Homo sapiens: one gene and its partners. The protein of the gene in region 1 interacts with the protein of each later gene in a pairwise test. Each region holds a gene or a part of one and is shown in the gene's direction. Other genes may lie near its edges. The genes, in order: TMEM109, MTIF3, LMNA and GOLM1.

Region 1 (6,989 bases):
GTGGCGGCTTCGCCTTGTTTAGGACCTTCCTTTAGACTCAGCTGTGCTTCTCGTGTGGCTGCTGTATATTTGGATCTACTATTAAAATAACCTCCCTCCTCACCTCTCCATGGCTTTCTCGTTCGACCCTCACGGTTTCTTGGCAGGTTGCTAATATTCATTTAATAAACATTTATTAGTCATCTTTCCTACTAGGCGCTGGGGATTCCAACATGTCAAGTCTAACCGGGAGTCGCTCGGTCTACTGGGGAAGGCAGGTTGATAAACTGCTAAATTATGCTACGATATATAGTCAGTGGTAATGTGTGTGCTGCAACATTTCTATAGATGTTTAGTTTACAAAGCGCTTGCTGCAGAAATATCTTAACTCCTTACAGCAACTCTTCACCTGGGTTCACTCCCTTTTACGTTTGAGGAGACTGCAACTCAGGCAGGTTAAGTAACAGGCGTAAGGTAGTAGCTTCTAGTCCGTGGCACACTTGAGCCTGGGACGGAAGTCAGGGGTCCTTTGTACACTGCTGCACTTTTGAAGCTTTGCTTAGACTTTTCCCTGAGCTGCTGGCTATGCATCCGAAATTCCTGAGGAGCTTTGCAAAACAAAGGGCTGAGTCCCTCTCTGGAAGAGTCTGAGTGAGTAGCCCTGGGTGGGGCAGACGTCCTTGTTTAACAGGCTGCACAGGCAGTTCCGATGGGCAGCCAAAGTTGAGAACCGCCGCTCCTTAGGGGCAGCTATGAGCAGCGGCGGGACAGTCAGAGCCGGTAGAGGGCACTTTTTGCCGCCCCTCCTGCCACCTGGTGATTCATAGCATGAAATGAAACTAACAAAAGGAAAGAGAAGAGGAGGAAGGAGCCTTGATTGGGAGGGGGGGGCGCGAAATGCCCCATCCTACCCTTGTAGCAAACCACAGCTAAACATAAGCAGTGGCGCCTTCTCACTAACACAATAAGTAAAGCTGTTTCCCCAGCCAGGCTGGGCTCTCCAGACCCACCTGAGCCATATTGCAGCTGCCGAACAGAAGTGGCAGGTTTTGTCTCCCACCTTTTGCTGTCCTCTCATACCTCTTGGTACAAAACCATGGCCTGTAAGCCCAGAAGGCAGATGGTCTCCTGGTATGTGTTCCCTCGGAGGAGTCTGGATGTCCTTCCACTTTGAGCTTGTTGGTGAACTTCAGCTCCATGAGGGCAGGGACTATGTCCACTATCAAGGCAGCATGCGGGTATGGGACAAGCAAAAAGGCAAGATTGAGATCCTGGGTACTGGAGTCAAGTCCCAGCTCTGCTGTGTGATCTTGGATAAGTCACTCAACCTCTCTAAGCCATACTTTTCTGAGTAAGATGAAGAGGGTAATAATACCTTAAAAGATTGTTGTTAGAGTTAAATGAAGTGATGAAACAATAAGCACTCTGTGAATTATAAAGCACCACACAAAAATTATTATAACATATGTATATGTATAGATATGTATAACATTTGTATTATTATGAGTTGTTAATTGAGTGCCTATTATTTGTCTGAGGCCAGGCATTGCAGAAGGTGAAGAAGTTTTAAGACATGCTTCCTCCTCTCAGAGGCTGAGACTGTTTCCATGCCTTTAGTAAAACTATTTGATTAGGCCAAAGTGAGGAGGCCTAATAGCAGTGAGTCCATACTGCCTGAGATTCACCTGGAAAAAAATGAGAAGGAATCCTATTAAAGAAAACAATTTGAAAAAGCAGACCAGCCAGCCAATCTCTGCACTCATTATCTCCAAAGGATACACTACACAATCCTGTTAGGTTTGGTATCTGGTGCACTTCAGAACATCAGTCTGCATAACGATGCCAGCCTCACTGCAGAGGGCTTATTTCAAGGTCTCCTAGCTCCCCTTAACTGGGGCAGACAGCCACTGGAGAGTTGGGGCTGGCACAGAACAAGGCAGGCTGCTGTGGGAGGAGCAGCTTATGGCACCCTGACCTCCTAGGGCTGAGGAAACGATATTTGATCCCTCCTGGTGGAGGTCCTTGGATAAAGGATCCAACCCAAGATAGCAACCCTGCTCTTTTAAGTCCCCAACATGGTTATGACCCAGATAGCTCAGGAACTCACCTGTGCTTTCCTCATCTGCGACCACTGGCAGGCAGGAACCATCTGGTTCTTGATTTGTGCCAAAGACAGTAGAAGGCTTTCCCAGCCTGAGGGCCTTCTACATGAATTGCATGTTTTTCAGCCTTGCTTGACCCTCCAGGCTTCTGGAAGGGCTTAGAGCAGCTGTTTCTGGACCAAAAAGTACCCTAAATGTAGTATTTTTAGAACCCTTTCCTAGACTCTCCTCCTTCCCCCTAAGCAAGACTAGGACATCATTCTCTTCCTTCTCCATCCCTCATGGCTCTGGATTTATTGTCAACTCCCTGAGTGCCTGTGTAACTGCAAAAAGTTCAAAAACCTGACTGCTCCTACCTCAGGGGCATGGCTTAGCCTCTGATCATCAGGTCTGAATCATGAAAACTCCTGGAGCTACAGGTTCATTTCTGAACCTGGAGGGGAACAGGGAATTTGCTGGCGCTGTCTGACATTTCTCAAGCACAGTGGCAAGTAGAAGTTGAACTTGTGTACTTTTTCTTGGCTGATCCTTACCTGCTTCAATGAGTTGGCACTTGTTGGGTCTTAACTTGTCTGTGGCATTGTGTTACAAGACCAGAGCACAAAGCACAAAGTTGTTAGGTAATTTTCACCAGTAATTCACTGAGATGATTGGTAGATGCCAAGTTTATTTTAACTCATGAATAATCTGTTGTGTGACTTTTTTTTTTAAGCGTCTTGCTCTCTTGCCCAGGATGGGATACAGTGGCATGATCATAGCTCACTGCAGCCGTGACCTCCTGGGCTCAAGTGATCCTCCCCCCTCAGCCTCCCAAATAGCTGGGAGTACAGGCACGCACCACCACACCTGACTAATTTATTTATTTATATTTATTTTGTAGAGACAGGGTCTCCTATGTTGCCCAGGCTGCTCCCAAACTCCTGGGCTCAAGCAATCCTCCCACCTCAGCCTCCCAAAGTGTTGGGATTACAGGAATGAGCCACTGTGCCTGGCCTGTATGACTTTCTAAATCACTTCTGAGACTTAGTTGGAGACAATACAGCAGAGTTGTTGTGTATGAGGGGTCCAATGTCAGAAGTACCTACATTCAAATGCTGATTTCCCCAGTTAATACTTAACCTGCCTCAATTACTTCAGTAAAATGGGGGATAATAGCAACACCTACCCGATGGGCTGTTGTGACAGTTAAATGAGCGCGGTGGTGCATGGCAAGACCTAGCTGAATGTTAGCTTTTTATTAATAGTATTTCTTTAAAGGTTGTTCATTATACCCTTGCTCACTGTCCTCGTCCATTTTCTGCTTCCTATAACAGAATGCCACTGCCTGCGTAGTTTATAATGAACAGAAATTCATTAGGGTCACAGTTCCAGAGGCTGGGAAGTCTAAGGGCATGGCGCTGGCATCTGGCAAGGGTCATCCTATGGCAGAAGGCAGAACCCAGCACATGAGACAGAGACAGGAAATCAGGCCAAAGTCATCCTTTTTATCAGGAGCTGCATTCCTGGGATAACTAATCCACTCCCAAGATAACGGCATTAATCCATTCATGAGGGCTGAACCCTCATAACCTAATCACCTCTTAAAGGTCCCACCTTTTAATACCATCATCATGGCAATTAAATTTCTTTCTTTTTTTTTTTTTTTTGGTGGAGAAGGGGTCAAACTATTTTACTGAGGGGAATGGGGTGTCAAAGAAGTACTTAGGACCATGAGATCCAACATCCTTGGCTGGACTGGGAGCTCCCAGGCTCTGCAGGAGGTGCAAGAACAGTTAAATTTCAACATGAGTTTTGCTCTTCAAACCATAGCACCTCCATTGGGGGTGGGGAGGTGAGGTCACTCTGTATCAGTGGTTCTCAACTTCATGCAGTGGAACTGCCTAGGGAGCTTTTGCAGATCCAAGGCTAGGCCACACCCAGACAATGATATCAGAACCTCTGGGCTGGGGACACAGACATCAGTACTTGGGAAGCTTCCAGGTGATTCCAGTGAGCAGCCATGGTTGAGACCCACAGTATAACTTGACTCCTAATGAAGATGGGTGGAAGCAGAAGCTTGGGTTCAAATCCTGGCCTTTCTGTGTAGCCCAGTGACCATGGGAAAATGCTTAACTTCTGAGTCACAGTTTCTTCTCGTCTGTACCAGTAGGGGCGAGGAGGATAAAAGCCACCTCACATGATGGTCCTGCAGAGAAGATGACATATGTGCAGTTATTCTTGTTTGAGCACATAACTGAGCACTTTTCTTTATACCATTATATGGCAGTAATCCTACTTGTGTGCTATTTTTAAGTTGTTTTTTATACCAGCTGTATCTTAAGTAGATTATAAGCTCCTTGGGACAGAGCCTTTATAGAGTCTTATAATACTTTTATGCCTATAGCACCTAAGATACAGGGACAGGCCTTCAGATTTTTAGAACTGGCACAAACCTTAGAGAGATCTTCTCGCCAACTCTAAAGTGTTGAATAATACTTGCTGGTTAATTAATATGCAAGTGGTAAAGAATGTGAAAGAGGAACCTGTGAGTCAGATGGTTGTGCCCAGCTTCAGTTGGAAGTCCCAGTCCTTCCTCTCCCAGCTAACAGCACTTTCTTTCCAGGGTTAGTTTGGTGCTTGCTTGGGGTAGGGGTGGAGAAGGATGTTGGGATAATCAGAGCTGAGAGGGTGAGTGTGTCTACCATGGCACTCAGCTCACTGTGCTTCTCTCCTGGCAGACCCAGTCATGGCAGCCTCCAGCATCAGTTCACCATGGGGAAAGCATGTGTTCAAAGCCATTCTGATGGTCCTAGTGGCCCTTATCCTCCTCCACTCAGCATTGGCCCAGTCCCGTCGAGACTTTGCACCACCAGGCCAACAGAAGAGAGAAGCCCCAGTTGATGTCTTGACCCAGATAGGTCGATCTGTGCGAGGGACACTGGATGCCTGGATTGGGCCAGAGACCATGCACCTGGTGTCAGAGGTAAGGAAGGTAGTCCCTGTGTGACTACACACATTAAGGAAAAATAAAAGAAGAAAGGTTGGTAATGGCCACCTCATCTTAGTTCCACATCCTCTCTGGTGCAGAGAGCCCCAAATTCCACAAAAAGAAGCCACACAGCACTTGTCTTTGAATTCCTCGTTATTTGATTGCTGTCCTAGGGCCTTTTAGCTCCACCCCTATCCTTTCCTGGCTCCTGCCCTTTCCTTGCCAGAAAGGCTGGGAAATGAGCCATCTTTATAAGCCCATGTTACTGGGTGACTGTAGAGTCTCACTTTGGTCTAAATCTGACCTAGAATCTCGAAATGGCAAAATATCAAGTCCTGAATCCATTCCTTCACCTGCAGAAGTGGGTTGAGCTTATTGGGAGCCTAAGGCAGGGTTATCTTTTTTTACCTGGTGGCATCCCAAGCATGGTATCACATACTTTTGATAGGCTGGACTGAAGGGCTGAGACAATCATTTATTAAATCCATAATATAGTATAGCTGATAGACTCCTTTTTCACTGGAACATCCTATCCCTTTACAGATGTTCTCCACGCACCTTCATGACTCCCTGGACAGCTAGCAGGCCTCCAGTTTTATAGGGTGACTACTAAAAGTATTTGATTGTCTCCGTCATTCACACACAAGTACACCTACTACTCCCTCCAAAGTATCCCAGCAAAGCAGTTAAATTATGTCCCAGATGCCCTAGTTTCCAGTTCAGGAAGGAGAGACAGCCTGTTGGCCATCCCTGTAGACTAGAAGGTGGATGTGGAAGGGACCCCTCAGCCAGGCCCAAGGCCCCTACCCTCTGACCCAGGCCTGTCACCACTGGGTGAGAAACAGGTCTGAGACATTCCTGCAGTTCTTGCCTGGACAGTGGTGATCAGGCGTGAAGGCGAGGACCGTTGTTCATTATGAACTCATCTCGCTCCGTGCTCTTTCCACAGTCTTCGTCCCAAGTGTTGTGGGCCATCTCATCAGCCATTTCTGTGGCCTTCTTTGCTCTGTCTGGGATCGCCGCACAGCTGCTGAATGCCTTGGGACTAGCTGGTGAGTGTTCGAGTGCTGGGTAGTCAGCCAGAGCTTTGCCTGTACTTTCCTACTTGTGGGAGTTCATCTTTGTCAGGGTCTAGCCTTTTCCCCAAGCTGCTTAACCCTTCCCAGGATTCTGCAGAGACATGGCCAAAGAGCAAGCCAAGAACTACCATGGCCAGGTGTGGTGGCTCCCGCCTGTAATCCCAGCACTTTGGGAGGTCAAGGCAGGAGGGTCACTTGAGGCCAGAAGTTTGAGACCAGCCTGGGCAATATAATGAGACCTCGTCTCTATAAAAAATTAGCCAAGCATGGTGGCGTGTGTCTGTTGTCCCAGCTACTTGGGAGCTGAGGTGGGAGGATCGCTTGAGCCCAGGAGGTAGAGGTTGCAGTGAGCCGGGATCACGTCACTGCACTCCAGCCTCGGCGATGGAGCAAAACCCTGTCCCACCCAGACCCCCTAAAAAAGAACTTCCGCCACCACGTGCCAGTTGTTCACTTCCTATCAGGCATCGTGCTGAGCTGTAGTATCTCATTTAATTGCCAGCCACAGTACAGGGAGGCAGTAGAATTGTTCCCGTTTAGTAAATGAAACTGCAGCTCAACAGAAGCAAGTAATCTACTCCAGGCCTCACAGCCAGCAAGAAACAGAGCTGAGATTCCAACCCATATCACTCTGAGTCTGCGAGAACGGCTTATTCCTTTGCAATGTGCCTAGCACCTCCCACCCTTTTAGCTCTTGCCCCGCTCTCCCCTCACCACTTCTCCAGGTTGGCTGACTCTGTGACTCTCTTGGCTTCCAGGTGATTACCTCGCCCAGGGCCTGAAGCTCAGCCCTGGCCAGGTCCAGACCTTCCTGCTGTGGGGAGCAGGGGCCCTGGTCGTCTACTGGCTGCTGTCTCTGCT
Region 2 (7,209 bases), on another chromosome or scaffold:
TGTCAAGGTGCCTGTGACAAGAGGGAAATGAGAAACTAGAAAATTCATGATTCAACCACCATTCCCAGTGTCTGTCTTTCCTCCTTTATCCTGCACTTACTCCTGTTCCCTTTTTTTCACTGTTTTTCCACAATACCCTGCCCATTATCTCTTCCCTTTAAACCTGTGTAAAATGTGGGAGAAACCAGGCAAACAAACCAAAGTGAAGAGAACTCTTTCCCCTGTCCTGTGGCCTTCTCCCAATGCCGCAGCAAGCTGAGTAGCCGATGGGGTGAAACAGAGTGAGATTAGGAGGGGTACATTCAAGTTCCCTGCCCTCTGCCGGGCCACTCATTTAACCTCCCTCCTTTTGTTTTTCTTCCCCTTCTTCAACTCTAAAGTGGAGGTGTTTGGTTAATTATCTGGAAGCACCTTTTTATTTTTTTGAGATGAGTCTCTGCCTGCCGCCCAGGCTGGAGTGCAGTGGTGCGATGTGTGCTCACTGCAACCTTCGCCTCCCAGGCTCAAGCGATTCTCCTGCCTTAGCCTCCCCAGTGGCTGGGATTACAGGCGCCCGCCACCACGCCCGGCTAATTTTTGTATTTTTAATAGAGAGGGGGTTTCACCATGTTGGCCAGGCTGGTCTTGAACTCCTGGCCTTAAGTGATCTGCCCTCCTCGGCCTCCCAAAGTGCTGGGATTACAGGCGTGATCCACTGCGCCTAGCCTGGAAGCACCTTTTCGACTCTGAAGTGATTCACAGAGCATCTCCCATGCCAAAGCATTGTGTTGCAATATCAGTAGCAACACTCTTAGATATACAACCAGTCACTTGACGAGGCACTTGTCATTTAAGCCTCACAGAAGTCAGGAATTGGATATTAAGCAAAGATGTTTGTTTTTCATAGTTCCTAAAAAGTGCCAATCATTATGAAAGTTCAATGGATGGCGCACGGGGACAGGCATCAGATGACTGCTCCCAGCACTGCATCGTGAGGTTGTGTGCCTTCAGAAAACCACATGTTATCTGCGGCTCAGTTTTGTAATGCCACATTTAACAAGGATGTTGACTGGAAAACAATATTCAGAAGAGACCAACCAGGGAGGATAATGACGTCAAACTATGTCACTTAAAAAAAAAAAGGTCACTGGGCGTGGTGGCTCACGTCTGTAATCCCAGCACTTTGGGAGGCCAAGGCAGGTGGATGGCTTGAGCTCAGGAATTCAATACCAGCCTGGGCAATATAGCAAAACCCCATCTCTACAAAAAATTTTAAAATTAGCAAGGTGTAGTGGTGCAAACCTGTGATCCCAGCTACTTGGGAGGCTGAGGTGGGAGGATCACTTGAGCCTAGGAGGCAAAGGCTGCAGTGAAGAACCATGATCATGCCACTGCACTTCAGCCTGGGTGACAGAGCGAGACCCTGTGTTTAAAAAAAAAAAAAAAAAAAAAAAAAACAGTCTTGCTCTGTTGCCCAGGCTGGAGTGCTGTGGTGTGATTTCGGCTCACTGCAGCCTCCATCTCCTGGGATCCAGCAATCCTCCCACCTCTGCCTCCCACACAGCTGGGACCACAGGTGCACACCACCATGCCTGGCCTTTTTTTTTTTTTTTTTTTTTTGTAGAGATGGGGTCTCGCTATGTTGCTCAGGTCTTGAACTCCTGAGCTCCAACGATCTGCCTGCTTCAGCCTCCCAAAGTGCTGGGATTATAGGCGTGAGCCAGCACACCTGGCCCCCAATCTTTATGATGAACCCTGGTGCATACTCTAGGGTCTATGAACCTAAATGGATCAAACTGCTCAGCAGCAGTGTATGCAGTTTCTCTACCTCCTCCCTCATTTGTCATTTTAATGGTGAGAAATTAATGTGTATTTCACTTTTTTCTTCTGTGAATTGCGTGTTTATATTCCTTTATTTTTCTACGTAGATGGTTTTTCTCCGATTTATAGGGTTCTCTGTTGTGTATGATGGAAAAAACCGTATCCCAGTTAGATTTTTCATTTTGCCTTTTTTTCTTAATGAGTTCCATCCCCTATCCTGAGATCACAAACCATTCTGTCTTTTCTTCTGTTTGTTTTAAAGTTGTATTTTTCACCTGTAGAACATTAGTATACCTGGGGAGACCTAACTTTTTGTCATCTATAAACTTCTCAATTGTCCCAACACCTTTATTGAGTGGCCGGTTCCTTCTCTATAATTTTCCAGTAGGCAGGATTTCTGGAGACAGAGGGCATGAACACAGGATGTAGGGACCCTTACCTGTCCAACAGTCTGGCTGACCCCTTATAGCAAGGAGAGCATCTCAAAAGGAGTGGGTAGTGCACTCCCAGATGCCAACCCACAGCTGATAGATAAGGATGTTAAGTGCACCATGAAGCCAAACTTGATCCTTTAAACGACTATCTTTTGGTGTTCTTTCAACAAACGATGGTTAACAATAAATGGAAGCATTTCAGATTTTAAGTACCCTTCCAGGGCAGGTAAAAAATTGGTACCTTTATGTGTATCTTCCCCATTTGAAAAGACATTTACTGGTCTGTGAAACTGAAAGCCAGATGAGAAGATTGTCAGGTGGCAACCTAGGATTTTATGATGGGCATGTTGGGAAGTTCAGGGTTCACAGTGGACTAGTCAGTAGTCCTTGCACCCTATCTGTTTCAAACCAGGACCAACCCTGAGAAAGGAACTGATTTTGTCTTCAAATATTGGACAACATGATTTGGACACAAAGACTAAACAGATTCAGCAGTGGATTAAGAAAAAACACCTAGTCCAGATTACCATAAAGAAAGGAAAAAATGTAGACGTGTCAGAAAATGAAATGGTAAGTAAAGAAGGTACAAGCCACTGCTTGTGCTTTGGGTCTTCTGATCTAAAAATACAATTGTAGGCCAGGCGCGGTGGCTCACGCCTGTAATCCCAGCATTTTGGGAGGCCAAGGTGGGCGGATCACGAGATCAGGAGATTGAGACCAACCTGGCTAACATGGTGAAACCCCGTCTCTACTAAAAATACAAAAAATTAGCCAGGCGTGGTGGCGGGCACCTGTAGTCCCAGCTACTGGGGAAGCTGAGGCAGGAGAATGGCGTGAACCCGGGAGGCGGAGCTTGCAGTGAGCCGAGATCGCGCCACTGCACTCCAGCCTGGGTGACAGAGCAAGACTCCGTCTCAAAAAAAAAAAAAAAAAAAAAAAATTGTAGAAAATCTGAAATATAAAGACAAAGTGACTGGTAATTCTTCCACCCAGTGATGTTAACAGCTTTCTAGTTTGCTTTTCAAAACTAAGCATACTGTAGATATAGTTTCCATTACAGCGTATTTTGCCATATGAACACATTATTCCTTAAAAGCAATATACTATTGTTTTATAAATTGTAGAATAACCCTTAAACAGGAAAATTAGAAACTTTATAGATTTTTTGTTTCTTCTTTGTACTTATAGGGGCATTAATTACGTAGACTGTCTTCTAGAAAGTGTGTAGTTTCCAATCCCATAAGTTTATGGAATACCTATTTTGCTTTTTTTTTTTAAAAGTTAGATAACTTTATCATCCACTAAGGGTATCCTTAGTAATCCAGCTCCACAGTAGAGTCACTTAAGCATAGGTCGCAACCCAGCTGATGCAGAATTTCTTGAGCCCAGGTATCCATTTGTTTCAGTCACTGAGAGAGACTCTGTTAGGGGCAATAGAGAGTGCTGAGAACTGCTCGGCTGACACCTTGGGGATGAGGAGGTATTTTGCCAATGCCCAAACCCAGTGCTTTCTGTTTGTGGGAGAGGGTAATGCTGAGCCAAACGTAGCCTCTTCGTGCCATGACGAAGTGGAGATTTAAAATTAGGAAGCATTCAGCATGTCAGTTTAGTTACATGGTGTTATTGTACAGATTTCAGTCAACTTAACCAGATACGTATGAACTGATTAGCTAATCACTTAACCGACAGCAGCAATTCAAGGGTGCCAGTTTTTGTGAATGTTCAAGCAGAACATTAGAAAGCACCAAAGCCTCTGATTTTAAATTAATCTTTGGCTGTTTCCCTTTTTTAGGAGGAGATATTTCATCAAATACTCCAGACTATGCCTGGAATAGCTACATTCTCATCTAGGCCACAAGCTGTTCAAGGAGGAAAAGCTTTAATGTGTGTTCTTCGTGCTTTCAGCAAAAATGAGGAGAAGGCATATAAAGAAACTCAAGAGACCCAGGAAAGAGACACTTTGAACAAAGACCATGGAAATGATAAGGAATCAAATGTTCTGCATCAGTAATTTTAATAAAGAAAAGCATGCTCTGAGAGAAAGCTCGCTCCTTGGTCTGCAGTCCTTTAAACAAAGCAGTGCAGTTCTTAGCCAAGGGTAAGTACTGCAACTGTCGAGAGCATCTTGTCTTCCACACAGTTGGGTGACTCTCCGTTTTGACACAAAGATAAGCCTTGCCCTTGTTTCCTTTTGGGAGGGATATATCCACTGAGATGAGAGGCCAAACTCCGTTTTTCACGAGATTTTTTGACCTTTGGGAATAAGGAAGACACACGATTAGAATTCAAAATCAAAACTGTCTGAGTTAATTTTACGATAGTCATATGTACCAGCAGATATAGTGTACAACATTGCTTTATGAGGAAGTAAAGTCTTCAACAGTAGTGCAGACTCAAACAGTAAAGCAGGTGAAAAGAATTCCAAACAGACTCCTTCTGGCCTTAAACAATTTCCACTTGAAAACTAAGCTTGCCTAAGTAGTTTCAACTTACTTTGAGCTTCATTTTCTTCTTGTCAGGATCATGTACAACAGCATGCCTAGTGAGACTTTGCTACAATGAAAGAGAAAGTTATTAATGAAATATTAATATGAAAACCATGTTGTGAAAGCATAGACTATAGGACCATGAGTATGAGGGTGAGTGCTTACTTTCATTGCAAATGTTTTGCCACAGCCAGCATGTTCACACACAAAAGGGCGGCTTTCCTCATGGAAGGAGAGGATATGGCTTTGGAGATTAAACACAGTTGTATAGGTTCTTCCACAGCCTTCTCTTGGACAGCGACATACATCCCTTTCTGGGGCATGAGTTTTCATGTGTTGCTTAAGGTAATCTTTGCGTTTAAATGTTTTCCGGCATACTTCACATAGTATTTCCTCTGGTGGGACAGACAGACAAATTTCACAAATTTCCCCAGATATTACCATTTAGAAAAAATTAATACCTAATATATAAGTAACATTCAGTGCCTGAAACCTGATCACTATATACAAATCAGAAATTCCCAAGGAAACAACCCCAGTTTTTATCACCTAGGAAGTTTGTCTCAATTCTCTGAAGTTCTTAAATGCCACACAGTCATTGTTCACTTGCCAAGAGGCAGGGCTCTCAGGAAGGTGACTGTGGGGAGGTACAGAAAATGAAGCAGACCAGTGTCCTTCCTTGTCCCCCAGTATGCAGGGTACTGTTTCCCAGGCGGTCCCACAGAACAGCAGTGCCTCCCGAAATTCTTCACTACAGACCTGCCACCGCCTTCAGCATGCTAATTGTGCATGGTGGGGTGGCTCAGAGACCTGGCACAGCTCTGCTCACCTTTCCAACAACATCATACCCAGCACTTCACAAAATATCATAGAGAAACCCTTTTACTTTAAAGCACACAGCATTTCACTCTTGAAAAGCACTAAATCAGTTCTGTGGGGACAAACATTTACACCATGCCTGCCATTCATGCCTGCCTTACCTTTATGGGTTTCTCTCACATGTTTCAGAAGTTCCGTCCATGTTTTTGCCACAAAGGAACATCCTTTTTGACATACATAGCCTATTAAAAAAATTGGTGCATTGTCTGTCATGAATACTCAGTGTAAACACTGACCATAACTAGAAAGGAAACTTAGGTGCCTATATAATTTTCCATTCCCCGCCTAATAGTATTCAACTCAGCCTCTTGAGGTGGGAATAAAAACTAAAAAAAGATTGATGTTATAGTAAAACTGAACAGTGGCACAGCAAGGTGCCTCCCTTTAAGGATTTTACCTTCCTGTGAAGCAAACTTCAGAGTTCCCATCTTCTCAGCGTGATCACGGAATAGGCAAACTTCACAGGAAGGATGCCTAAGGATGCCTTTTCCTCTCTAAGAGTTCTCAGGAAGTTGGGTAGGCTGTGTATGGACTCCCAACTGCTTTAACCTCCTATCTCCATGTCTTATTTCCCTTCCCCTGCCTGCTCTATCCTCGCCTCTATTTTCCTCAGCAAACATACTCTGCAGTCGGTCCCTTGTCCATGGCACACCACCAACTTTTCAGTAGTGTTACCATGCCCACCTCTGGCTTCCTCTAGTCTGGCCATCTTGTAAGTGTCATACTGCACAAAAAAAGTAGGGTACATTATATTTTAACTTTATCACAAAAAAAAAAAAAAAAGTTTTTTTTTGTTTTTTTTTTTTAAAAGAGTACAGCTAAGGAAGAAAATAAACTGGAAGGACCCAGAGAAAAACACTGAATAACAATGGATATGTGCAAAGCACTAAAATGGGATTAATAAGTATACAACACTAGGGCTGAGTTCCACCCAACTAGAAACTAAAAACAATGAGGCTGCCTCTCACTGTTAGCTACTAACCTCTTAAAAAAAAAAAAATCATAAATTCTAGGACCTGGGAAATTGAAATACAGATTAGCAAAAATCCCTCAAGGAAACAGATCATAGATTCAAATAGTTAATATAATCAAGTCTTTTTTTTTTTTTTTTGAGAAACGTAACATCTGATGGCTCTCAAAATGTCACACGATTATCCAAGCCTTGTGAATGGCCAACAAGGAAAAGAATGGCACAGGCAGTAAATATTAATAGAAGAGGTTAAAAATGACAGAAGCATCAAAGCCATGGCTGGAGCATCAGCACATTCGTCAGTGTAATGTGTAACCAGGCGCTTGTTGTGAACAAACAACACATTACATGTGAACAGCAATGATACGGTAGTGGAAAAACAGACATATACAGTGCCTCTTTGGACAAGAGTGTAAGACCCAAATAAGCAGGATGGTGTCCCCTGTTCACAGGGTTCCCATCTTTTCAGCGTGATCACAGAACAGATTCAAAGGCGCCCAGGATTTGGCATCCCCCTCGGAGCACACCCAGGCTATCCGTACACACCCTCGTGGGCCTTGGCATGTCGTTTCAGCTTGCTGGGTGATGCAAAGTGTTTCCCACATCCTTCCTGGGTACACCTGCATTGGCAACACATGAG
Region 3 (3,500 bases), on another chromosome or scaffold:
AAGTGTTTGCTATTATATTATTATTATCACTGCCACCACCGCTTTTGCAAGCAGCAGAAGGTGAAGAGGTTAGACTGAAGAAAAAACTTCTGTGCTCATCAGCCCATAAGCTCGCAGAGCACAGGGATCATGCATCTATGTTTTCCTCAGTCAGTGTCTGCCAGGCACTGGCAAGGAAAGGCTGTTACCAGGGGGAACTCCAGGAATTCCTCCTGGCACCTAAGGAGGCTGGGGAGACAGGACTAGGGAAAAGGTGCCCTTGAGACACCTTCTGAAATCATCCCATTGCCTTCCAGCTTCTTTCAGCTCAGGCTGGCTGGTCAGGGAAACGCTTTGTGCCATAGTGTCTGCCCTCTTCCTCCTCCTGGCTTCTCCATTCTCTCTGGAACTTGTGGCTTAGGAAAGCAGTGAGGTGGAGGAGGAGGAACCCTAGATCAGCAGCTAGAATTGACTGGAATGCTGCTGCTGGCTTTCGGTAATTGACACTGGGCCATTCACCTTCCTCCTTTGCACCTCAGTTTCCTCATCTATAAAAGGGAGAGGGTTGAGCTGAATCAACTCTAAGCTCCTTCTAGTTCTCTAAATTCTGAGAGCCTCCTAGTACAGCCAGCAGCAGCCATTAGCCTTCAGGGTAGAGAGGCCTCTTCTGGGAAGCCCCAGCCAGCCTGGGGGTCAGCCCAAGGAGCTCGGAATCTAAGTTGCCCCAGTTGCTTCACTTTACCAGCGGTTTTTCTTCATTTTCCCTCCTCCCCCTGCAGCTGCTTCAGCTTCGGAAAAGTTCTGAAGTCATGGAAAGTTGGGGCTGTGCTCCCAGCCAGGGGCTAGGCCGGATGGCAGCCAAAACCTGAGCTGGGTTTTGACTTTATTTTTAGCTTTTCTGACTGAGACAGAGGAGGGAATACATTCTCCGGTTCTGGAAGGGGCTCTTTTTTGCAGGAGACAGACACTTACATTAAACAACTTGTTCTGAGGTGTGGCCAGAGGCCTGGACTGAGCAAGTGTGCAGGCTGGGGGAGCTTCCTCTGGCTTCTCATGTCCTTCCCCTGCCCCTCTGAGTGTCACTCTATCCTCCTCCCTGCCTGGTGGGGGGAGGTGGGGGTGACTCCTTTTTTGGACTCTCCTAAGCAGAACACTGCCTGGGTCTCGTCCTCCAGAGCTTCTGCAAATCTAGCCTTCCCTATCCCTCTTCACAGTGAATTGCTGGGCCTCTTGGAGTTTAGGACTTTTGTGGTAGAAGAAAAATGTTGGCAGGGCTGCTTTTCTCCTTTCCAGGATAGATTTTTCCTTCTGCCCACGCTTGGTTTTCCTTTTTTCCATCTGCTGTGGTGGGCTCATGCTTAAGCACTGATGAGTTACAGATGGCAGCTGGAACCAGGTCCTCTGGATCTTTCCCTCCGCTCCCTGGGTCTGCTGCTTTCTCTCACCCTATATTTGTGAAGCAATTGTAACATCTAGAAAGTTCTTGGGTTCTCTGGAGGTTTTTAAGAAAATAGGACCTTTCTATTTCTCCAGTCCACTAGCAAAAATAATCAGGGGCCCAGAAAAGGTGAGGGAGGTGGCAGAGGCAGCGCTGTTCGACTGGTTATAGCTAAAGCTTTACCCACTTTGAGGAGCAGGGAGGCTTAAAGCTGGGGCCCAGATGGACCTGGAGGCCTGGGATCCACATCTGGAACCAGATGCTGAGGCTATGGTAGATGGGTAGGGCTCAGCCTTCTCCCAGGGCACGGATGAGGCAGGAGGGAGGGAGGCAGGGACCCCTCTGTTCAGTGCAGATCAGGGCACCCAGACTGGGTCCTGAGAAAGGAAAGGGTCAATATTGTGCCTGGTCATCCTTGTCTGAGGTCCCTCTGAGCTCTAACCAGACTTTCCTTCCCCACAGTCCCACATGTGTAAAAGGGACTAGGAGAGGTGACCAGTACCTTTGGGGCTCAGATCGAGAAGTGCTAGGGACATGTGGGCCATGAGCTTAGTTGTCAGGCTCCTCAGAGGGAGGGAAGCTTGGCCAAAGGGAAGTGAGTAGAGTCCAGGGAGAAGGCTAAGTAAGGCCCTGTGTGGGAAGGGGCAGGAGACAAAGGTACCCCTGTCTCTTTGGGAAAGAATGGGAGGAGAGAGAGGGAAAAGCATTCATATCACGGGGTAGAGCTCTGCCCTTGGCCCCAGGCACGTTCCTGAGCCCTGAGTCATGGGAAGGGTGGAGAAGCAGGAAGGGGGTTTTCAAGGACCTTGGGGAGGTGGGAGCCCAGCCCCAGAGGCAAGCAGATGCAAACCAACCTAATGCAAGGATGCCCTCTCCTGGTAATTGCAGGCATAGCAGCGCCAGCCCCCATGGCTGACCTCCTGGGAGCCTGGCACTGTCTAGGCACACAGACTCCTTCTCTTAAATCTACTCTCCCCTCTCTTCTTTAGCAATACCAAGAAGGAGGGTGACCTGATAGCTGCTCAGGCTCGGCTGAAGGACCTGGAGGCTCTGCTGAACTCCAAGGAGGCCGCACTGAGCACTGCTCTCAGTGAGAAGCGCACGCTGGAGGGCGAGCTGCATGATCTGCGGGGCCAGGTGGCCAAGGTGAGGCCACCCTGCAGGGCCCACCCATGGCCCCACCTAACACATGTACACTCACTCTTCTACCTAGGCCCTCCCCCATGTGGTGCCTGGTCTGACCTGTCACCTGATTTCAGAGCCATTCACCTGTCCTAGAGTCATTTTACCCACTGAGGTCACATCTTATCCTAATTTGGCTGCCAATGGGATCTACCACAGTGAATTTAAAATAATCCAGGAGGCCGGGCATGGTGGTTCACGCCTGTAATCCCAGCACTTTAGGAGGCCGAGGTGGGCCGATCACGAGGTCAGGAGATCGAGATCATCCTGACTAACATGGTGAAACCCCGTCTCTACTAAAAATACAAAAAATTAGCCTGGCATGGTGGCGGGCGCCTGTAGTCCCAACTACTCGGGAGGCTGAGGCAGGAGAATGGCGTGAGCCTGCGAGGCAGAGCTTGCAGTGAGCTGAGATCATGCCACTGCACTCCAGCCTGGGCAACAGAGTGAGACTCCGTCTCAAAAAAATAATAATAATAATAATAAAAATAATCCAGGCCATGTGTGGTGGCTCATGCCTGTAATCCCAGCATTTTGGGAGGCCAAGGAGGCAGGATTGCTTGAGTCCAGGAGTTTGAGACCAGCCTGGGCAACACAGACCCCATCTCTAGAAAATAAAAATTTAAAGAAATTAGCTGGGCATGGTGGTGTGCACCTATAGTCCCAGCTACTTGGGAGGCTGAGGCAGGAGGATGGCTTGAACCTGAGAGGTCGAGGATACAGTGAGCTGTGATTGCACCACTGCACTTCAGCCTGGGTGACAGAGGGAAACCCTGTCTCTACATAAATAAATACATAAAATAAAATAATCCACAAGCCATTTCTACTTAACTTTGCAATGAACTGTACCTGACCCTAGATCCCTCCCAGTTTGGCCCTCCGGTATACAAGGGCCTCCTAT
Region 4 (7,998 bases), on another chromosome or scaffold:
TGTAGAGTGGCAGCTATACCCAGAGACTTGATGAGACTCAGGTCCTGGCTCAAGCCCTCGGTAAGGTGAGTGGTGGTGTGTTCTTTGGTTCTTTCATCGGGAGGCACGTCATGTCTGGCGTCTTTTTTTTTTTTTTTTTTTTTTTTTGAGATGGAGTCTCGCTCTGTCACCCTTGCTGAAGTGCAGTGGCGCGATCTTGGCTGACTGCAACCTGGCGTCTTTCTTTTTGTGATGCCAGTTGATGGTCAATGCCTGTATCAATTCATTTTTATGTTATTTGTTAATTGGAATGTTCTTAGAAATAGACACTTCAGCTGGGCGTGGTGGCTAACACCTGTAACCCAGCACTTTGGGAGGCCGAGGATGGTGGATCACCTGAGGTCAGGAGTTTGAGACCAGCCTAACTAACATGGTGAAACCCCGTCTCTACTAAATACAAGAAAATTAGCCAGGCGTGGTGGCACATGCCTGTAATCCCAGCTACTTGGGAGGCTGAGACAGGAGAATCGCGTGAACTCGGGAGGCAGAGGTTGCAGTGAGCCGAGATTGTGACATTGCACTCCAGCCTGGGCAAGAAGAGTGAAACTCCGTCTCGGGGAAAAAAAAAAAAAAAAAAAAAAAAACCTCAGTGGTATTGTTTGTATAAGGTAGATAGGATAAATGCTTGATTTCTTTCCTTTTTAACAGTTTTCATGACTATGAATTACTTCCCCATCTTCTCTGAGGGTAACTGCTTTTAAAATATCATCATAAACTTCAGAATTCAGCAGAAATCCTCAGGGCAGCAGGAGTCGTTGTAACAACTACTTCACTTCAGTTTCGGCCTTGCTGATCCTGCCGATGCCCTTTTTTTTTTTCTTCCTCAGATGGAGTCTCACTCTGTTGCCCAGGCTGGAGTGCAGTAGTGCGATCTCGGCTCACTGCAACCTCTGCCTCCCGGGTTCAAGCGATTCTCCTGCTTCAGCCTCCCGAGCAGCTGAGATTAGAGGCGCACGCCACCACGTCCAGCTAATATTTGTATTTTTATTAGAGACGGGGTTTCACCATATTGGCCAGGATGGTCTCCATCTCCTGACCTCATGATCCGCCTGCCTTGGCCTCCCAAAGTGCTGGGTGGCGTAAGCCACCACGTCTGGCTAACAATACCTTCTTTTATTACCATCTGGGCAATGCATTATTCATTTAATGTTTTAATACTTACATTTTTTTTACCTTTTCATTTTGAAATAATCTAGACTTCTTTAAAAAGCAAAAAATTTCTGTATACCCTTCACCCAGGTTCCCCAAATGTTAACATCTTATATAACCACAGTAAAATTACCAAAATAAGGAAATTAATGTTTATACAATGCTATTATCTAATCTGTAGACTTTGTTGAAATTTAGTGAGTGTCCAATTCATGTCTTTTTTTCTGGGTTCAGGATTATACACTGCATTTATTGTCAGACCTCTTTAGTGTTCTTTATCGTGGAGCAGTTTATCATTTATGTTGTTGGTCTTTTTTGAAGGGTAGTGGCTCAGTTATTTGGTTGAAAGTCCCTCAATCTGTGCTTGTCTGATTTTTCAACAATGTCCCCCTAAAAATTATCTTTTATATTTCTCCAGGATGTCAGTTGTTTCAATTGGCAGAGTTGTTTGGAATTTTTAGAATCCAAGTCCTAATTTGAATTTTCAGCTGTCTTCATTTAGGCAATTTTTTAAAAAGGCAAATGGCAAAATACACTAGCAGCCAGACTTTGAAGCAAATACAAACTCTCTGTTGTCATTGACTCCACTCATTTATGTTCTTGAGCATGTTTCACGGTCTGGTCACTGTCTTACTTCTATTCTTTTTTTTTTTTTTTTTTTTTTTTGAGACAGAGTCTCACTCTTCTTGCCCAGGCTGGAGTGCAATGGCACAATCCTGGCTCACAGCAGTCTCCGCCTCCTGGGTTTAAGTGATTCTCCTGCCTCAGCCTCCTGAGTAGCTGGGAGCTGGGATTACAGGCTCATGCCACCATGCCCAGCTAATTTTGTATTTTCAGTACAGACAGAGTTTCACCATGTCCACTAGGCTGGTCTCGAAATCCTGACCTCAGGTGATCTGCCTGCCTCAGCCTCCCAAAGTGTTGGGATTACAGGTGTGAGCCACCACCCCGGCTCTAACCACCTTTTAAATTGGGCCTAGTTTCCTACTAAATGATGGGCTTTGCGGTGAAGCCTTTTTGGATCTCTCATTCCCTACACTCAGGTGTCCTAAGGACTTGACCTTGTGCAAGGTTTTAAACAAAGTAAGTAGGTAAGGTAAAGAAAATGAGTGCCTTGTCAGCTCTTTGAAGAAGCTGAAGAAATGTCAACATCAGCTTCAACATTATTTTAAGATTGTGTCATTGAAACAGTGAGACCTTACTTGCTCCAGGGAAATTAGAAGAAAAAAGCATTAGCTCCAACTTTATTAAGAGCCTTTAACAGATACCGTTAATTTAATATGGCAGGTATTTAATGGTCATTAAACTACCATTTAATGTGCCATAGTTATAAATCAAGACCGTGGTTTTAGGTTTTATTTGTGATGTGCCTTTTTATGTTTTCTGTGTGTTAAAAGGATAGAGTAAGATCAGATGGTAGAAGCTACATACAGACATCAGCTCTGTAAAGGGAGAGCTTTGGAGTCACAAGAGCTGTCTGAAGCTGCAGACAGCTCTCAGGAGGCAGCGTGTGCCATTAGAAGTGCAGTAGCAAGGGAGTCACGCCGCACAGGAGCGTGGTGATTATATTTAAAATGTCATGAGTGCACTTGATACTGTCCATTTTCTATGGCATATGGGGCATTATGTCACTGTTACAAACAAGTATGGAATCTTTAGGTGCTTCAGCTTTGTTTCATGGCACATTGTTGGTCATCCATTTGGACACTTTGAAAGGGGAGGAGTTCCAGCTGGGCGTGGTTGCTCACGCTTGTAATCCCAGCACTTTGGGAGGCCAAGGCGGGCGGATCACGAGGTCAGGAGATCGAGATCATCCTGGCTAACAGGGTGAAAACCCGCCTCTACTAAAACTACAACAACAAAAAGAAATCAGCCGGGCGTGGTGGCGGGCGCCTGTAGTCCCAGCTACTCGGGAAGCTTAGGCGGGAGAATGGCGTGAACCCCGGAGGTGGAGCTTGCAGTGAGCTGAGATCGCACGACTGCACTCCAGCCTGGGTGATAGAGCCAGACTCCGTCTCAAAAAAAAAAAAAAAAAAAAAAAAGTTCCCTTATCCCCTTCACAGGGCATGCAATGGGGGTATGGCTTTCTTCTTCAGTGCCCCACAGCTCAAACCCCTAGGGGAAGCATGCGGACGGACAGGTTGTGGGGAGGATGGGTTTCAACCCCGCGGCAGCATCTAGGGTTGAGTGGTTACAGCTCCTGGAGCCCCACTGGGTGTGTGTTGCAGTGCGTTCTTTCAGCTTAGCTGTCCACAGGCAGCTTGTGTTAATCAGTTCAATTAGACCCTCTGCCTTATCGCAAGGACAGAGGGCTTTCTGTATCCCAGGTTCTTGCCCTAGTGTACTGAAAAAATCAGATCATGTGGGCTTGGAGAATGAATGCAAGATTTATTGAGTGGTGGAAGTAGCTCTCAGCAGATGGCTGGGGAGCCAGAAGGGGGATAGCATGGGAAGGTAGTCTTCCTCTGGAGTCTGGCTGCTCAGCAGCCGGGATCTCCTACTGTCCTTGGCCGAATTTCCCTTGGCGTCCGAATCGTTCCACCATCAATGGCCTGCCAGCGTCTTTCGATGTGTTCTTCTGCCAGTGTGTTCCTCTTGACGTCCAGCCGCTTGTGTGTGTGCCCGCTGGGGTCTCAGGGTTTTTATAGGCACAGAATGGGTGGCATGGCAGGCCAGAGTGGTCTTGGAAAATGCAACATTTGGGCAAGAAGACAGGAGTCCTTGTTCTCATTAGGTCCATGGGCACAAGCCTGAGGGTGGAGCCCTTGCCAGTGACCCTGCCCTTCTCTACCCAGCACTTCCCTGTCCCCCTCCCATATCACCGTTGCCATCTTGTCCTTGATGAGGAATACAACTCCCAATTACAGTGTTGCTGTGGGAGATGCAGTCCTCTTTATGACAGTTTCTAGAAGTTGATAAGAAAATGGGACCTGCCTAGGGCTAGTATCTCATTTAATACTCTATAGAATATTATGTGTTTTTCCTTTTTAGTTTTTAATGTTGAAGATCAGAAAAGAGACACCATAAATTTACTTGATCAGCGTGAAAAGCGGAATCATACACTCTGAATTGAACTGGAATCACATATTTCACAACAGGGCCGAAGAGATGACTATAAAATGTTCATGAGGGACTGAATACTGAAAACTGTGAAATGTACTAAATAAAATGTACATCTGAAGATGATTATTGTGAAATTTTAGTATGCACTTTGTGTAGGAAAAAATGGAATGGTCTTTTAAACAGCTTTTGGGGGGTACTTTGGAAGTGTCTAATAAGGTGTCACAATTTTTGGTAGTAGGTATTTCGTGAGAAGTTCAACACCAAAACTGGAACATAGTTCTCCTTCAAGTGTTGGCGACAGCGGGGCTTCCTGATTCTGGAATATAACTTTGTGTAAATTAACAGCCACCTATAGAAGAGTCCATCTGCTGTGAAGGAGAGACAGAGAACTCTGGGTTCCGTCGTCCTGTCCACGTGCTGTACCAAGTGCTGGTGCCAGCCTGTTACCTGTTCTCACTGAAAAGTCTGGCTAATGCTCTTGTGTAGTCACTTCTGATTCTGACAATCAATCAATCAATGGCCTAGAGCACTGACTGTTAACACAAACGTCACTAGCAAAGTAGCAACAGCTTTAAGTCTAAATACAAAGCTGTTCTGTGTGAGAATTTTTTAAAAGGCTACTTGTATAATAACCCTTGTCATTTTTAATGTACAAAACGCTATTAAGTGGCTTAGAATTTGAACATTTGTGGTCTTTATTTACTTTGCTTCGTGTGTGGGCAAAGCAACATCTTCCCTAAATATATATTACCAAGAAAAGCAAGAAGCAGATTAGGTTTTTGACAAAACAAACAGGCCAAAAGGGGGCTGACCTGGAGCAGAGCATGGTGAGAGGCAAGGCATGAGAGGGCAAGTTTGTTGTGGACAGATCTGTGCCTACTTTATTACTGGAGTAAAAGAAAACAAAGTTCATTGATGTCGAAGGATATATACAGTGTTAGAAATTAGGACTGTTTAGAAAAACAGGAATACAATGGTTGTTTTTATCATAGTGTACACATTTAGCTTGTGGTAAATGACTCACAAAACTGATTTTAAAATCAAGTTAATGTGAATTTTGAAAATTACTACTTAATCCTAATTCACAATAACAATGGCATTAAGGTTTGACTTGAGTTGGTTCTTAGTATTATTTATGGTAAATAGGCTCTTACCACTTGCAAATAACTGGCCACATCATTAATGACTGACTTCCCAGTAAGGCTCTCTAAGGGGTAAGTAGGAGGATCCACAGGATTTGAGATGCTAAGGCCCCAGAGATCGTTTGATCCAACCCTCTTATTTTCAGAGGGGAAAATGGGGCCTAGAAGTTACAGAGCATCTAGCTGGTGCGCTGGCACCCCTGGCCTCACACAGACTCCCGAGTAGCTGGGACTACAGGCACACAGTCACTGAAGCAGGCCCTGTTTGCAATTCACGTTGCCACCTCCAACTTAAACATTCTTCATATGTGATGTCCTTAGTCACTAAGGTTAAACTTTCCCACCCAGAAAAGGCAACTTAGATAAAATCTTAGAGTACTTTCATACTCTTCTAAGTCCTCTTCCAGCCTCACTTTGAGTCCTCCTTGGGGTTGATAGGAATTTTCTCTTGCTTTCTCAATAAAGTCTCTATTCATCTCATGTTTAATTTGTACGCATAGAATTGCTGAGAAATAAAATGTTCTGTTCAACTTATAAAACTTGTCACAGCTCTGTTTTTTTGCTTTTCCCCTTCATCCTCTATTAGATCCTTAAAGAATCCACCCTCAAACTGTGGACTAAGGATGGCAGTTTGCCTTAAACCTTCTGTGGAATGAGATGGGCTGTCAGGACGTCTTCAACCCACAGTACCCCGAAAGCTTTGTGCTCACCACGTGTGCACTCTGCATGCTTTCTCCAGGCTGCCCTAGGGATCACGACAGATTCAGCCAACAATGGAGAGGGCTGTGGGCTGTTCCAACAAAATAGAACAGTCACCTCTGGTGACACGCATCTGTAGTCCTAGCCTCCCAAGTAGCTGGGACTACAGATGCATGTCACCATGCCCGGCTAATTTTTTGTATTTTTAGTAGAAATGGGGTTTCACTTTGTTAGCCAGGATGGTCTCAATCTCCTGATTTCGTGATCAGTGTAAAGACTCAGAGAGCTGTTGCATAATAACTTCATGTGAGTCTCCAAAATTTGATACTAAAGGCTTGGTGGTCTCAGGGGGCCAATGTGGCTGCAGCCTGAGGGGCCAAATGGAGAGGGCAGAAACGAAGTAGGAGAGGCAGAAGGGGTCAAACTGGCATTCTGGGTAAAGACTAGGTCATTCATTAGAGAACAGTGGATTTTAAGTAGAGTTGTCAAGTGACCATGCTTGCATTTTATGATCTTTTAAGATCATACCAGCCACTCCACAAATAGAGTGGGGCAAGTATGAATATGGGGAAGTCAGTTCTTCAAGCCCAGTTGAGTCGCTCTTTCCTCACTGCATGGTCTACACCTCAACTGACTTTCCAGCTTCTGCCCCACCCCTTCAAGAAAGAGCTCGCCCCAGTCGCCAGCAATCTTTACTTGCCAAGTTCAATGGGCTCTTTTCAGTCCTTCTCTTAATGGCCTCTGAGCGGCATATGGCCCTCATTCTGCTTATTTTCCTGATAAGTCTCCTTTGCAGGCTTTTTCCAGTGCCCAGAGCATAGCCAAAGAGGAACAAGGAAAACACCCACCTCTCCTGAACTTTTCCAAACAGGGTGCACTTTATTTAAGGCAGTATACTGTCTTAGAGTCTTGTGCAAACAAAACGGTGAAACAGGCACACTTGTCAAAGAGTGGCCTCGTATGATTTTGAGGTATTCTTCCCTGCAGCCTGTCCCACCACCTCAGTGGCCTCCCCATTCCCTGGCCCTCCCAAGTCTATTCCTTGGGACCTATCTCAGTCCCTTACTCTAGGAGCTCCCTGAGCAATGGCAACCCCCAGAAAATTACAGTGACTATAGTTACTGAGTCCTCAGTTCATCTCCACCCCAGATGGCACCTCCCAGTTTGAGACCAAACTACCTGCCATCTTCACCAGGATGTCCCAAAGATATCTCAATGTCTAAAGCAATCTTTATCCCAAACCTGGTCTCCTACCTTGCCTAGATATCTACACAAGTGGCACCACCATCGTCTAGTTGCCAAAGCCAAAAAAATTTCTGAAAAATCATCCTTGATTTTGGCAGAAACTCTCATTCACCATGTCCCATTAGCTGTACCTCTGAAAACATTTGATTTCATCCACTTTCTTCCACCTGCTCTGCCACTACCTTTGTTAAGACCAACATTTTCTCTCACGTGACTGGCTTCCCTGCCTCCCTTTTCAACCATTCTCAGGCAAGCAGATTTGACTTGATCCCATCATGTCCCTGCATACAAGCCTTCAGTAGAATCTACCAATATCAGAATAAAGTCCAAAATCTTTAACCTGTGGCCTCCCAGGGTTTTGGGTATCGGCTTCTCCTTGCCTCTCATCTCCGCCATCCTTTTCCTGCTCTATACTTCGGCCAGGCTGCTACCCTCTCCCCTCCAAGCCTGTGCACATTCTGTCTGGGACCCTTTTCCCAGCAGTGCCTCCTGAATAGATGCGATGGGGATTTGTCACCTAAAGTTTCACGTGGGGCAGTTCTCCTACCCAGCATACAGCATATTCTTCACTGCATTTTCAATACCTGTTGCTTTTCTGTATTTGTCGTAAGATGATAAAAGCTCTATGACAGGAGACTGTCTTATTTCTCCTATTGTTTTT

What was found.
Region 2: the proteins of TMEM109 (region 1) and MTIF3 interact in binary tests that used the Homo sapiens proteins (3 or more experiments, as listed by UniProt).
Region 3: the proteins of TMEM109 (region 1) and LMNA interact in a two-hybrid assay, tested with the Homo sapiens proteins (one large-scale study listed by BioGRID).
Region 4: the proteins of TMEM109 (region 1) and GOLM1 interact in binary tests that used the Homo sapiens proteins (3 or more experiments, as listed by UniProt).

The regions. Positions count from the first base shown.
Region 1 is NC_000011.10:60,914,888-60,921,876, forward strand, and holds part of TMEM109 (voltage-gated monoatomic cation channel TMEM109 precursor), read left to right. Parts: intron 1-2,728; exon of another isoform or gene 2,729-4,266; intron 4,267-4,798; 5' UTR 4,799-4,806; coding exon 4,807-5,043; intron 5,044-5,998; coding exon 5,999-6,101; intron 6,102-6,886; coding exon 6,887-6,989. UniProt on the Homo sapiens protein: Functions as a voltage-gated monoatomic cation channel permeable to both potassium and calcium. Plays a role in the cellular response to DNA damage.
Region 2 is NC_000013.11:27,432,711-27,439,919, reverse strand, and holds the end of MTIF3 (translation initiation factor IF-3, mitochondrial), read left to right. Parts: intron 1-2,646; coding exon 2,647-2,804; intron 2,805-4,026; coding exon 4,027-4,245; 3' UTR 4,246-4,277; downstream 4,278-7,209. Other genes in the region: GTF3A (transcription factor IIIA), read right to left, coding at 4,323-4,487, 4,728-4,787, 4,886-5,115, 5,701-5,781, 7,116-7,189. UniProt on the Homo sapiens protein: IF-3 binds to the 28S ribosomal subunit and shifts the equilibrium between 55S ribosomes and their 39S and 28S subunits in favor of the free subunits, thus enhancing the availability of 28S subunits on which protein synthesis initiation begins.
Region 3 is NC_000001.11:156,128,211-156,131,710, forward strand, and holds part of LMNA (lamin), read left to right. Parts: intron 1-1,616; exon of another isoform or gene 1,617-1,639; coding exon of another isoform or gene 1,640-1,698; intron 1,699-2,406; coding exon 2,407-2,563; intron 2,564-3,500.
Region 4 is NC_000009.12:86,024,075-86,032,072, reverse strand, and holds the end of GOLM1 (Golgi membrane protein 1), read left to right. Parts: intron 1-4,179; coding exon 4,180-4,256; 3' UTR 4,257-5,927; downstream 5,928-7,998.